Linked DNA regions of Homo sapiens: region 2 is linked to region 1. A link means that fine-mapping ties the variant in region 1 to the expression of a gene that starts in the linked region. Tissue or cell type: whole blood. Region 1 holds a variant in brackets; the other region holds the start of a gene. All regions are shown on one strand. Distances are between the middles of the regions.

Region 1 (5,722 bases):
GACTTGAGATCAGGTAGCGAGATGCCTTCAGCATTTTTCTTAGGACTGCCTTAGTTATTCGGGCTCTTTTTTTGTTACATGTGAATTTTAGGATTGTTTTTCTTAATTCTGTGAAAACGATGTTGTTGTTTTGGTAGGGATTGCATCAAATCTGTGGACTGCTTTGGGCAATGTGGCCATTTTCACAGTGTTGATTCCCAGGGGAGCAGTCCTCTTATGAGAACAGGTGGGGCAAGGTGTTTTTCTGGAGTCCTTGGAACGCACTAGGGCACGGGTGAAATGGATTCTATAAAACTTCTGTTTGTTTGAAGAAGTAGACTGCAGACACAGGAAGCATGAAGCCCCAGCGGTGAGGAAGACACTGCCCCTGCCATTATCCCCAGAAGGTGCCTGCATTTAATAAAGACAGTGAGAGACTGAGGGAATTATGTACTGGGCTCATTTTAAAGCTACTAGACCACTGATATGAACAGTAAAGCAATGAGTGCAGGTCTGTTGATGATGAGGATGCTGGTGACGATAGTGAATGTGATCACGGCTGCTTAAAACACTCTGTCTAGGTAGGCAGAACACTCTCTGAGAACAGGCTCTTCCACAAGTCTCCTCAGTTTAAATACACCAGAGAGGGTTTGGGGCTGGGAGAGTAAAGTCACTGTATTATTTTGGACAAGTCCTTTCACCTCTCAGAAAGGAGAGAAATAACATTACTTAGCATGCTGGAAAGAGAATTAAATGAGACAGTTTGTGTAATTTCACAGAGACTTCTGTGGCACTATTCTAAATTCTTTACAAATAGTAACTCATTTCAATCCCTTAACCACCGACAGGCTGCTGCTCTTATTCTCCTTACTTTACGGGTGAGCAAATTGAAGAAGAGAAGTAAACAGAATTGCCCACAGTCACACAGCAAGTAAGAAGTCAGGCTCAGATTTGAACCCAAGCAGTTAGGTTCTGAGTCTGTCCTATTATACATATAATATTGTATAGACAAATAAAATGCACTTTAAAATTAAATTGTCTACAAATGATGGCTATGACTATAATTAATCCCAAATCTACTTTGAAAAAGAGGGAAAAGATGCCAAATTTGGGTGGTCTCCTTAAGTCACGTCCTGGAAGAAACATAGACATCACACACAGAGCCATATAGGCAGGAAGTAAAAATATCAACAACATATTTGACTCAATTCTCTATGCATATGGTTACTATAGTTTGTTTTTCTGAATACACATAAATATTGCATTTACTGGTGTCTGTTTAGGCTATCTGTGAATAACTTGGACTTTTGTCTTTATCTCTGGTTTTATATGTAGCTTTCATCGTCTAGTTTGATCACAAATATCAAAGTACATGAGGCCAAATCAGAGTATAATTTCTTACAAGAGACAAATAGTGTGTATAGACGGCACCTGAATTCCACAATGTCATAATTCCAAATAGAAACCATGTGCACGGAACAAGAAGAGTAGATGGTATCACATTCCCTCTTCCCTCTTTTCACGGCACTGCAGGGCAGCAGGGCAGAGCTCTCAGGGGAAGTCAGAACACGGCCCTGGCAGTGATTTGACCTCAGCACACAGCTGTGTGCACGGTCTGGGGGCACCTGGGCTCCTTTCAGCAGCTGCCTGCACACAACCTGCAGACATAAGATGATGCAGGAGGACTGGATATTAGGAAGCTGAAAGGCATTTAAACTGTGTTCTGAATACTACACATATAGACGGAGATGGGAAAGGGCCACTCTGCCTTGTTCATGAGGGTAGATGAGTATTCCGTGTGTCTGCGGACTGGTGACATTTGAAAGCATGCCATCAATAAGCCACCGGCCACGGCTGGATTTCCGCAGGGGTTAGTGGATCTCCCAGCTCCAGGCTACACCAAGGCAAAAACGTGGGCCCCAACCCCCAAGGTTATCTCATGGTCCTTGGAAGGTTCTGGTGAGAAGGAGGGAGATAAAAGGAATGCTCGATGACTCTGGAGAGAGACGGGTGTGACTGGACTCCATCACCATTCGTAGCATGATCTTTTGGACATAAACCTACTTTATGATACTAAAAAAGAATTAGAAATAAAATGTTGCTTTAATCAAGGAGTTCTAGCACTATATAATTCCTTTGAGTATAAGGAAGAGGTTTATACATCACAGAAACACATGAACTTGTACTCACCCAAAATTCTTCAATGACACAAAAGAATTACTCCAAATTTTACTGGAAAAATAGAATTCTACCGAATGTTTACTAAATCCCCAAAGATGATTTTTTAAAAACATTTGCTGCATAAATCATGATAAAAGAAAAACTAGCATGTGCTCCCAATCTTATTTGAATATTTCTTCCATTGGAGCACACAGTGTTGGTTTAAAAGATACACATCATGTGGAATCAATCTCA[T/A]AATTCACTTGGAATCTTCTCTCAAATGGAATATCACAATCATTGAATAGTTTAATGTGAAGAAAAGTGAGTAGAATACTATGAAATACAAGAATATTTCATTAGAAGGAAATCATCTTGAAATCCCTTGAAGACGAGCCAGTTACTTGGGTAGAAAGGCTGTTTCCACGGTGTGCCACCCAGTCCCCGGCCTTCAGAGCCAACTCCATGCCCCTGTTTTCTACCCACCAGCAGCTCACACAGGAGGCACCGCCAGCCAAAGCAGCCTCCTGAGATCTCCGCTTGCTTTTGCTCAACCAAATCTGCCTCCAATTCTGTCAATATCCATCTCTGTTGAGTTGGTTTAGGGAGAGCTCTGAGTTCACTTTTGGCTGTGTGTGTGTGTGTGTTTCCTCAATGCTGGAACTTGCTTTCTGGTATGGGTCCCTGCTCTTGCTCCCAGAGCTCTTCATGACCTCCTGAAGAAGCCAAGCTCTGCCCCTGTGGAAACCACGTCCATCACTGCCCACTTGTGTCCTGCCCATATGAGGTCTGGCCGCCATAAGGGGCAGGGCAGGATTTCTGTATTTCACCAGAATCTGCAGTTGGTCCCTGGAATCTCATCAAATACCTATGAGTTGGATGAATTCCTTTCCTCGTGAGGTTTCAAGATAACTTGGGGTTCCCGGCCTGTCAGAAAGTGACATTCTTTACTTACCACAGATCACAACCCCTGTGCAGGGACTGTGTACACAGAATAAGAGGACAGTTTCCAAGGGCTTTGTTGGCTTTATAAGTCAAGTTTGATTCCTAAAAGGAGAGCACAACATTCCAGCCAATGCCTTGGCAAAATAATCAGTTTTTCCTATTGTGTCCTGTTACAAATGAAAACAGATTCTTATTGTATTTATGCAAATAACTATATATAAACAGTTCCAAATTCTGGAGAAATCAGGTAGAGAGAAACAAATATGCCCCAAATTTTGTTCATAAGAATATACTTGTTAAAAGCCATTAATAGCTCAAAAGTTTCCTTGACTCTGAAAAAGCAAAACAAAGGATTAGCAACATTGCTTAACATTTTAAGCAAAAGTCAAAAAGATCATTTCAGTCTTCTATCAGTTCAGTTCATGCAGTTCATTCCTGTCCTACTTGATATTAGTAAATATTTTAGCTCTTCAAGAGTCGTGAACGTTTTTCTTCTATGCTAATGTCACAATCTTCAAAGTTATCAGAAACCTGCATTCAAGAGCACCTGGGAGAGCTTTCCAGCTAATTATAAAACCACCTTCTAAAGAGGACCAAAACAAGACAATCGTTTATGGATGACATTCAGGAGCACCTGGGAGAGCTTTCCAGCTAATTATAAAACCACCTTCTAAAGAGGACCAAAACAAGACAATTGTTTACGGATGACATTCAAGAGCACCTGTGAGAGCTTTCCAGCTAAGTATAAAACCACCTTCTAAAGAGGACCAAAACAAGACAATCGTTTACGGATGACAAAAGTTTTAGGGTAGGCATAGTTAAAAACACAATTGACAAGGAAATCTGTTACTTCTGTGGCACACAATAATTTAACATAACAATTATTACTGATAATGTCCACTAAGATACATCAGAAATATAGGAGTCTCCCATAACTTTGAAACAAATACCAAAACATATTTATACAAATATAGCCCAAAGACAGCCAAACACCATTTCATATCTAACAATACTTCCTGTGTAATGTTTATACCAAATAGGTCAAATTTCCCCTTTACATTAGTTACACCCAATTCTTAATAAAACCTTATAAACATATTTACCCAATTTTAATGTTTGACCATAAGGTAAGATTTTTATAGAACTTTTCTAACCCTTTACAGTTTTTGTTAAAGAGCAGGTTAGTGCTCTAAGAGAAACCCATTGTGTTTTTATTTTAATGCTCAATTTACAGAAAAACTGGATGATACTCCTTTAACTTTAGCCAATGTGTTTACACACAGAATTTCCCTTACAATCAACCTTCCACACCTTGCTTAAACCTTCATCTTTATTTTATCTAACTTAAAACAACACTTTAAATCTAGGCAAAAAATCCACATCCTCATGCCTCCTTATAATCTTTTTACCAAAAATATATTTTACTTTCCTTACACACGTTGCACGTAAACTGACATAAAGAATGTTGCTATTTCTTCAACAGCTTTAAATACATGTTACTCTGTTAACTCTTAGGAACCTTCACTTTTGGTGAAAACCTTGGTAAGGTTGGGATTTGAATGAAGAACTAGGTGTGAAGCCTAGGACCTAGACAGAAGTGCAGAAAAAGTCTGACTTATTCCAGCATCTAACTCCATGTGTCCCAGGCCATATCTAGCTGTAAAGCAGGCAGTTGTGCGGCTAAGAGTCATAGTGGCATTTTATACAGCATTTAGGAGGCCTAATCACCTTTAAATTGTATATTTCTTGCATAAATTCGCTTTCATAAATTCTTTCATGACTACACAGACAAGCTACGACACGCCTTGACTTTCTGACTTGTCCTAAACATCCCTCTTTTTAAACAACCAGTCATTTTACTTTTAGGAAAGAATTTACCATACAAGATCCTTTCTTATATAAAATCTCTTTTCTTTATACCTTTTTGCATAGCTAAGGGCATGGTTAATTTCATGTGTCCCCAGGCCTTATCTAGAATTTAGCACTCCAAAATAAATTGAACAATTTGTAAGTCAAAGAAACAGTTTATGACCAAAAACATTTAGCAAACCTAATATTTGACCTGCATAATTTAGTCCAAATGTTTACATTTTTTAGGAGATTTTCATGTTACCAATAATCTTTAAAACTCTCTTTATACTTTCTTTATAGCTCTCTTGTTTTCTGGTTTCTTTTACCTTGTTTTGTATATAACCTTTAAATAAGCTTTGGATTAGACAAAAATTAATTACCCTGAAAAAAGGACACAATATTTAGAAAGAATGTTTTCCTACAATATATTTTCATTGGAAAATAGCCAAATAATGAAATGTCTGTTATTAAATTTAATATAGCTTTAGATTCTAAATTATGACAGGTTTGTTTATGAGTATTTATCCAATTACATTCATCTAATTATTTATTTTAATCATTTACCTAGATGATTTATGAAAGCTGCGATAGTTATCATTTACAGTTATAAAACCACCATTGCAAAATTATAACTGAGACAGTGAGAATGACATGACCTAACCTACTCCATCTTGCTTCTAAACTCCAAGCTATTTTTATTAACTTCTTAGTTATACTTTAGCTTTGAAACAAAGGTGGTAACAGTCCTTTCCCAGAACAAACTTCCTTCATGCTTATGGACTAGATTGCC
Region 2 (5,722 bases), 420 kb after region 1:
CAATATACTCAAGGGATGCAACTACATAGTATCATTAACAGCGGCTTTCAACTGCAATGATTCTTAAGGAAATGGGGCATTCGTGTGTGGCCTGAAAATAACCATTAATGCTTCTAATATGCTGAAAATTTACATCTGTACCATTTCTCCTTTGTGTATAATATTGGCTGACTTGCTATACTTATTAAGAGTATTTTATTCCTTTTATTAAGAATCTTTATAATCTTTTTTAAATTGGGAATAGGCTTTAAATATGATCAACTTTTTGGCATCTAATAATACCTGAGTTTCTACTGATATAGCATTTCCTTATATTGAGCCTACATATAGCCCTAAAATAAAATGAGCTTGGGCAGGAGATATTACTTTTATTTCTAAATGCCACATGCTAGTGTTTAAGATTTTTTTTTTCTTTTCTGAGACAAGAGTCTCACTCTGTTGCCCAGGCTGGAGTGCAGTGGCATGATCTCGGCTCACTGCAACTTCCTCCTCCCGGGTTCAAGCAATTCTCGTGCCTCAGCCTCCCTGAGTAGCTGGGATTACAGGTGCCTACCACCAAGCCCGGCTAATTTTTGTATTTTTAGTAGAGACGGGGTTTTGGCATGTTGGCCAGGCTGGTTTTGAACTCCTGACCTCAGGTGATCCATCCGCCTTGGCCTCCCAAAGTGGGGATTACATGCATGGGCCACTGCACCCGGCTGTATTTAAGAATTTCAATGCATGTGCACAAGTGAGAACAATCACGTTTTCCAATTTTAGTAATCTACTTCGCATTTTGTTACCTTTGATCGCAACAACAGGAACTCATTCGTGTTAAGCCAAAGTATAATTTATTGGAAAGATACAGTTTACATAACAGCAGAGAAGGCTGATGAACCAGATTCAGAAAGACACAGGGAACACTTTAGCTTCTCATCTTCAATGTGAATAAACCTCAATCATTTTCTTTGCATTATTTCAAAGAATTCATCTAATTAGCTTAGTTTGGGTCTCATCCTTATTAAAAAGTTAAGGGAAGTAGCTGACAATCTCACCAAAGCTCTATACAATTGCAGATGAGTTAATTCTCTAAAAGTTAACTGAGGTGCTACCACTAGAAAAAAAGAAATGGAGGCAAGACAGATAAAATCAAGAGATGGTCATATTGATGAAACAGTATGTCTTAAATTTTCCTATGCTCCAAAATAGGGAAATTAACAGCTACCTTAAATTAGAAATAACTAAGTGAACAGTTTCCTCAGGTACATTTAGTGAGCATTTGTAGAGTCCTTTCTCAATTTCTTCCCAATTATTGTTCTATTCAAATTTCTCACCTCTAAAAGAATCAACTTTAAAGATAGCTATAATTGATCACATCCATATCAAATACTAATAATTACTTTGGTCCATGTCCCCTCACTCCCAGATTTTAACCTATATACCAGGTGCACCTATGTGTCTCCTCATTTTGAGTTCAGGCTCATTGAATTTTAAAGACCACTTCAGACCTCAGATAGGCAGTAAGTTTATAAAAGCCACCCTTGTCTGCCTCAATATATAGAAATTTTTCTTTACTGTTGGTGACCTGTTACTCAGACTCATTGCCAAGAAATACAGCATAGTGTTTGGGAGTGTGAAGTTTTAAGTCCAACTGATTTAGGTTTCTAGCCCTGCTCTGCTCTTTTTCTTAGCTGTGTAAACTTGGCCTGTTTGCTTTTCCTCCTTTATTTAGTTCGTTCTTTCCTCTGTAAAATGTAGACACCAGGGAAACAAGAACCTGAAATTTCGCCATTATTTTGAGAATTCTCTTTTTAAGAGTAATCTTAAAATGTTTTAGGGTCTTCAAAAAATTGTTTTGCCTGTCATCTCTATCTTCATCCTATTATAGGTCCACGAAGTAAGTACGAAGAGAAACCAGTATAGGCCAATTGGACCGAGTACTAGCATACAGGTTCTGGTCCCAGCTCTATCATTACAGCTTTGTATCCTTGGGCAAACTAATTTTCTGTTAAAGTATCAATAAAATATAGAGTCTTTAATACATTAACGGTTTTCAAAGCCTAATCATATAGAAATACCTGTTATACCACCAATAAAACTGAATAATGACCCTTTCCATCAATATCAGTAAGTTTTGGACAGGGTATTTTCAACTTAAGTTTTTTTCTCCTGTACATTCTTCAAATATCCAGACTGCTGATGTTTTAAAAACCCAAAACATGGCACTATTCTGCCTGGTTTATCAAATTATTTTTTTAATACAACACACTCATTTTTCGCTAGCAAAACTGCTTATAATGGCACTAAATACACTAACATACTGTGTTTTAGTACAAAGCAATAATACTCAGAGTACTCTCAGGAAATCCGCAAGCTGAGTAAATTTGAAAAGAAGATCTTGTAACCACCCTTCCAATCGACTTATGTAGGGTTCTATGGCCCTAATTAAAAAACAAGAAAACTTTAGCACTCAAGTCCAAAGGGGACTGCCCAACTCAGTCTCAGGCTTCAATTTCGCATCTGGGGAAAAAAGAAACACAAAAGGGAGATGCTGCCTCCTTGGCTCTGGGGGTGGTGACGGGAGCGGGGCCCACTGGGGAGCGATTTCACTTAAACGGTCGGACATAGCCGTCTCGGGCCCCTAGCAGTCTCCGCACTCACTGCCTCCTTCTCGAACATGCTAGGCCTCCTTTCTTTCCTAGGCGTCACCGGAGCCTGCTGAGGGGTCTGGTTCGGGGTCTGGATGGGGCTCGACTTCACGCCTCGGCCTCGCTTCTCCATCTCGCTCTGTTCTCCAAGACGCCCACCGCCTCCCCTTCACCGCCGGCGGTCAAACGCCCTAGCCAGTCCCGCGAGGGCGGAAGTCTCCCACCTGCGCCTCGTACGGTAGGAAGTGCCCGCCAGGGCTCCAAAGCGCCTGGAGGAGGGGCGCGCAGGCGCCTGCGTCATTCACGCGCGCCGCAGCGGGGCACCGGAAGTTATGGAGGTAGGGCGGGTGTAGGGCCCGGTTCGATCCCGAGCTAGGCAGGGAGTCGGCGCCAGGCTGGGTGGTGCTCGGCTACGCGGAGTGGGCGAGCGAGCACGCGCCTGCGGTGGCCGGCGGTCCCGCGCTGGAGGGCGCTGGCGACGTCGCGGCCCTGGCCTCTGTGGCGGTATCGGACGCTCGGCCCTGCAAGACGCCTGGCGGGCCCTGCCGGCCTCCCTGGGCCAGGCTCGGTTTCTCCGTCGCCTCCTGGCCCTGAGCTGGAACGCGGCGGACGGTCAGGGAGGGCTGTGCGCGGTGGCGCGGGGGCGGAAAGCCGCAGGTCGGGCTCTCACCTGACCGTGGCTCGTTCCTAGAAGCGCAGTTTCCTAGTCGCTGCCTGTAGGGTCCACACTCGGACAGTAAATTTGTGTTCATCGCCGGGCGTGGTGGGGCCTGTGGTCCCATCTACTCCGTAGGCTGAGGTGGAAGGATCGCTTTAGCCCAGGAGGTGGAGGCTGCAGTGAGCCGAGATCGCGCCACTGCACCCCTGTCTGGGCGACGGCGAGACCCCGTCTCCAAAATGATGATAACGATAACTACCATTTTTGAGTACTATGTGCTAGATGCTTTTCATGTGTTATCTGATTACTGTAGCCCTACCAGGTGCAGCCTGGCACCGTTTTATTTCACTTAGAACTGAGATTCCGATAAAGTAACTTTTCCAAGGCAAGAGGTAGTCAGAGGCTGAGGAATGATTCAAATTTAAGTCCAGCTCCAAAGCACCGGCCCAGTGTAGTCTGCAGAGTTCCAGCCCCATAGAGCCACATGGAGGATGCGAGTGACAATCGCCAATCAACAAATAGTTGATGTAGATTTCTTTAGTGATGACTTAATTGTTAGGGCCTGCTGGGATTGTTCGAAAACCAGGGCTGAGAGTGGAAAGTGCAACTTCTGGGTGCAGGAGGAGCAAACAGGGCAACTGATAGCAGTTTCCACATTAGGAAGCTGCCCAGAGCTAATTATGACTGTCACAACACAGCCCCCCCTTAACTCAACACACCAAAATAAAGAGCTTCGGTTCCGCTTTAGATCCTGAATTTGACTTCTTTGCAGGTTTATACGATGGTCTTAGTGTCATGTGGGGTAATTGTGAGGATTTCGATTGTATTTAATTCTCCATGGAAAACCAGTACGGTTTGCTACTTTTTACATGGCAGGGAAGGCTAAACTTTACCTCTGCCCATCTTAGTTCGGAGTGACCCCTTTAACAAATGAAAGGATAACAAGAAAAAAGTTTATTCTTGGACAGAGTACACATCACAAGGGATAAACCTTAATGAGAAGTAACTTGAAATGGTGGCTTAGAACTACATTTGTATACCATCTTCAACAAAGAACTGTAGATTTGCAGAGAAGTGACAGGACACAGGAGAGCAGTTTTAGGCTTCAAAGGGCAGGAAATTGGGAAGGTAGATACATATTCGGAAACTAATGGAGTAAGAATTGTTTGCAGATTCCCCTGGTACCTTAACTGGTCTGGTAAGTCTAAAGTTATCCCCAGTAAAGAATTTATATCCTGTCTTTGGGCGGAAGAGGGGGAGGATAGAGAGAGCTTTTCCTTCATTTGCTGCCTCTTGTCTTCAGCTCAAATTTGTTGTTGTTTTTATATCGAAGAGGCATGTTTTGGGATGACATTGTGGTTTTCTTCAACACCGTTTAGGTAGTCAGAGGTACGTGGGGTTCTTTTTCCTTCTTGTTCGTTATACTTGGTTTCTGCTCTCCCATTCCCCATTTAAAAAAATTGCTTATTTTGATAACTCTGGGATAGTGAAGGAATGCTGAGAGCAATAATGCTCTGGTCGTAAAACACATTCAGCTTCCGTGAACTTGTATTTTTTCTTTTTTTTTTTTAAGTGAAAGGCAAGTTTATTAAGAAAGTAAAGGAATAAACAATGGCTACCCCATAGACAGAGCAGTTTGCAAATATTATGATTGATAATTTTAGGTCTTTAAGCCTTTATCATATTTGAGAACATTTATGTAAATTATCTTTAATATTTAATCACTATGTTTTAATCATACAGCTCTCACGATATCCAGAAAGCATGTTAACAGCAACTATACCTGAGTGCATTCAGTTCTTAAGAGATGTGTCTGAAATATATAATACTCTATTTTTCTTTCTGTTAAGCAGTGCCTTTTATTTTATTTTATTTTTTAGGTATTAATAGGGGACCCTATTACCACATGTCTTTCTCCCTCAGTGTATGATATAATTTGTAATCTTGGGTTTCAACTCAGAGAAAATTGTGATATCAATAGCATTGTAACTCAGAATGGTGAAGTATGCTGGAAAACAATCACAGACTGTGTGAGCTACACAGAGTCAGGTTTGTGCTGTCTTTGTACTCCAAACTTTCATAACTGTCCCATTGAAAATGTCTTGACCTGTAAAATTCCCCTTTCTGACCATTGGTTCCTTTTGTTAGATAATGTTATAATACAGGCCTAACTCCAAGGAGAACAGGAATCAATGTGAAAAGAGAGGGAATGAGGCCAGAGAAGCATGGAAAAGTTAATGGAAAGCTGGGCTAAGAAAACCACCTCTACAGAGGAGGTGTCAGGAGGCACAGAGGGGCTGGTGGGCTGTTGATGATGTAGATCTCAGGGCCTTGAGATGATTCTCTGTAGGAGTCATGTGAATTAAGGGTAGAAAATGACCAGTAATAGATTATACAGTTATTTTAAGTGTCTTCTAGACATTCTTGCACACTTTGG

The links. PIP is the estimated chance that this variant, and not a neighbour inherited with it, causes the effect.
Region 2: ERMARD starts here. The variant in region 1 is fine-mapped to the expression of ERMARD in whole blood (TOPMed, PIP 0.93).

The regions. Positions count from the first base shown.
Region 1 is chr6:169,330,626-169,336,347 of GRCh38, forward strand. It overlaps LOC105378148, which reads right to left. Exons shown (of 4, transcript XM_017011621.2): 4 at 1-390. The coding sequence ends at 374. Among named protein-coding and RNA genes, the nearest start is that of LINC02519, 55 kb to the right of the region's middle. The variant T/A (reference allele first, on the strand shown) is at 2,395.
Region 2 is chr6:169,748,699-169,754,420 of GRCh38, forward strand. ERMARD (ER membrane associated RNA degradation) reads left to right here and starts at 2,924. Exons shown (of 18, transcript NM_018341.3): 1 at 2,924-2,965; 2 at 5,166-5,334. The coding sequence starts at 2,960. DYNLT2 (dynein light chain Tctex-type 2) reads right to left here and starts at 2,874. Exons shown (of 4, transcript NM_174910.3): 1 at 2,641-2,874. The coding sequence starts at 2,760. RefSeq lists a silencer at 1-61.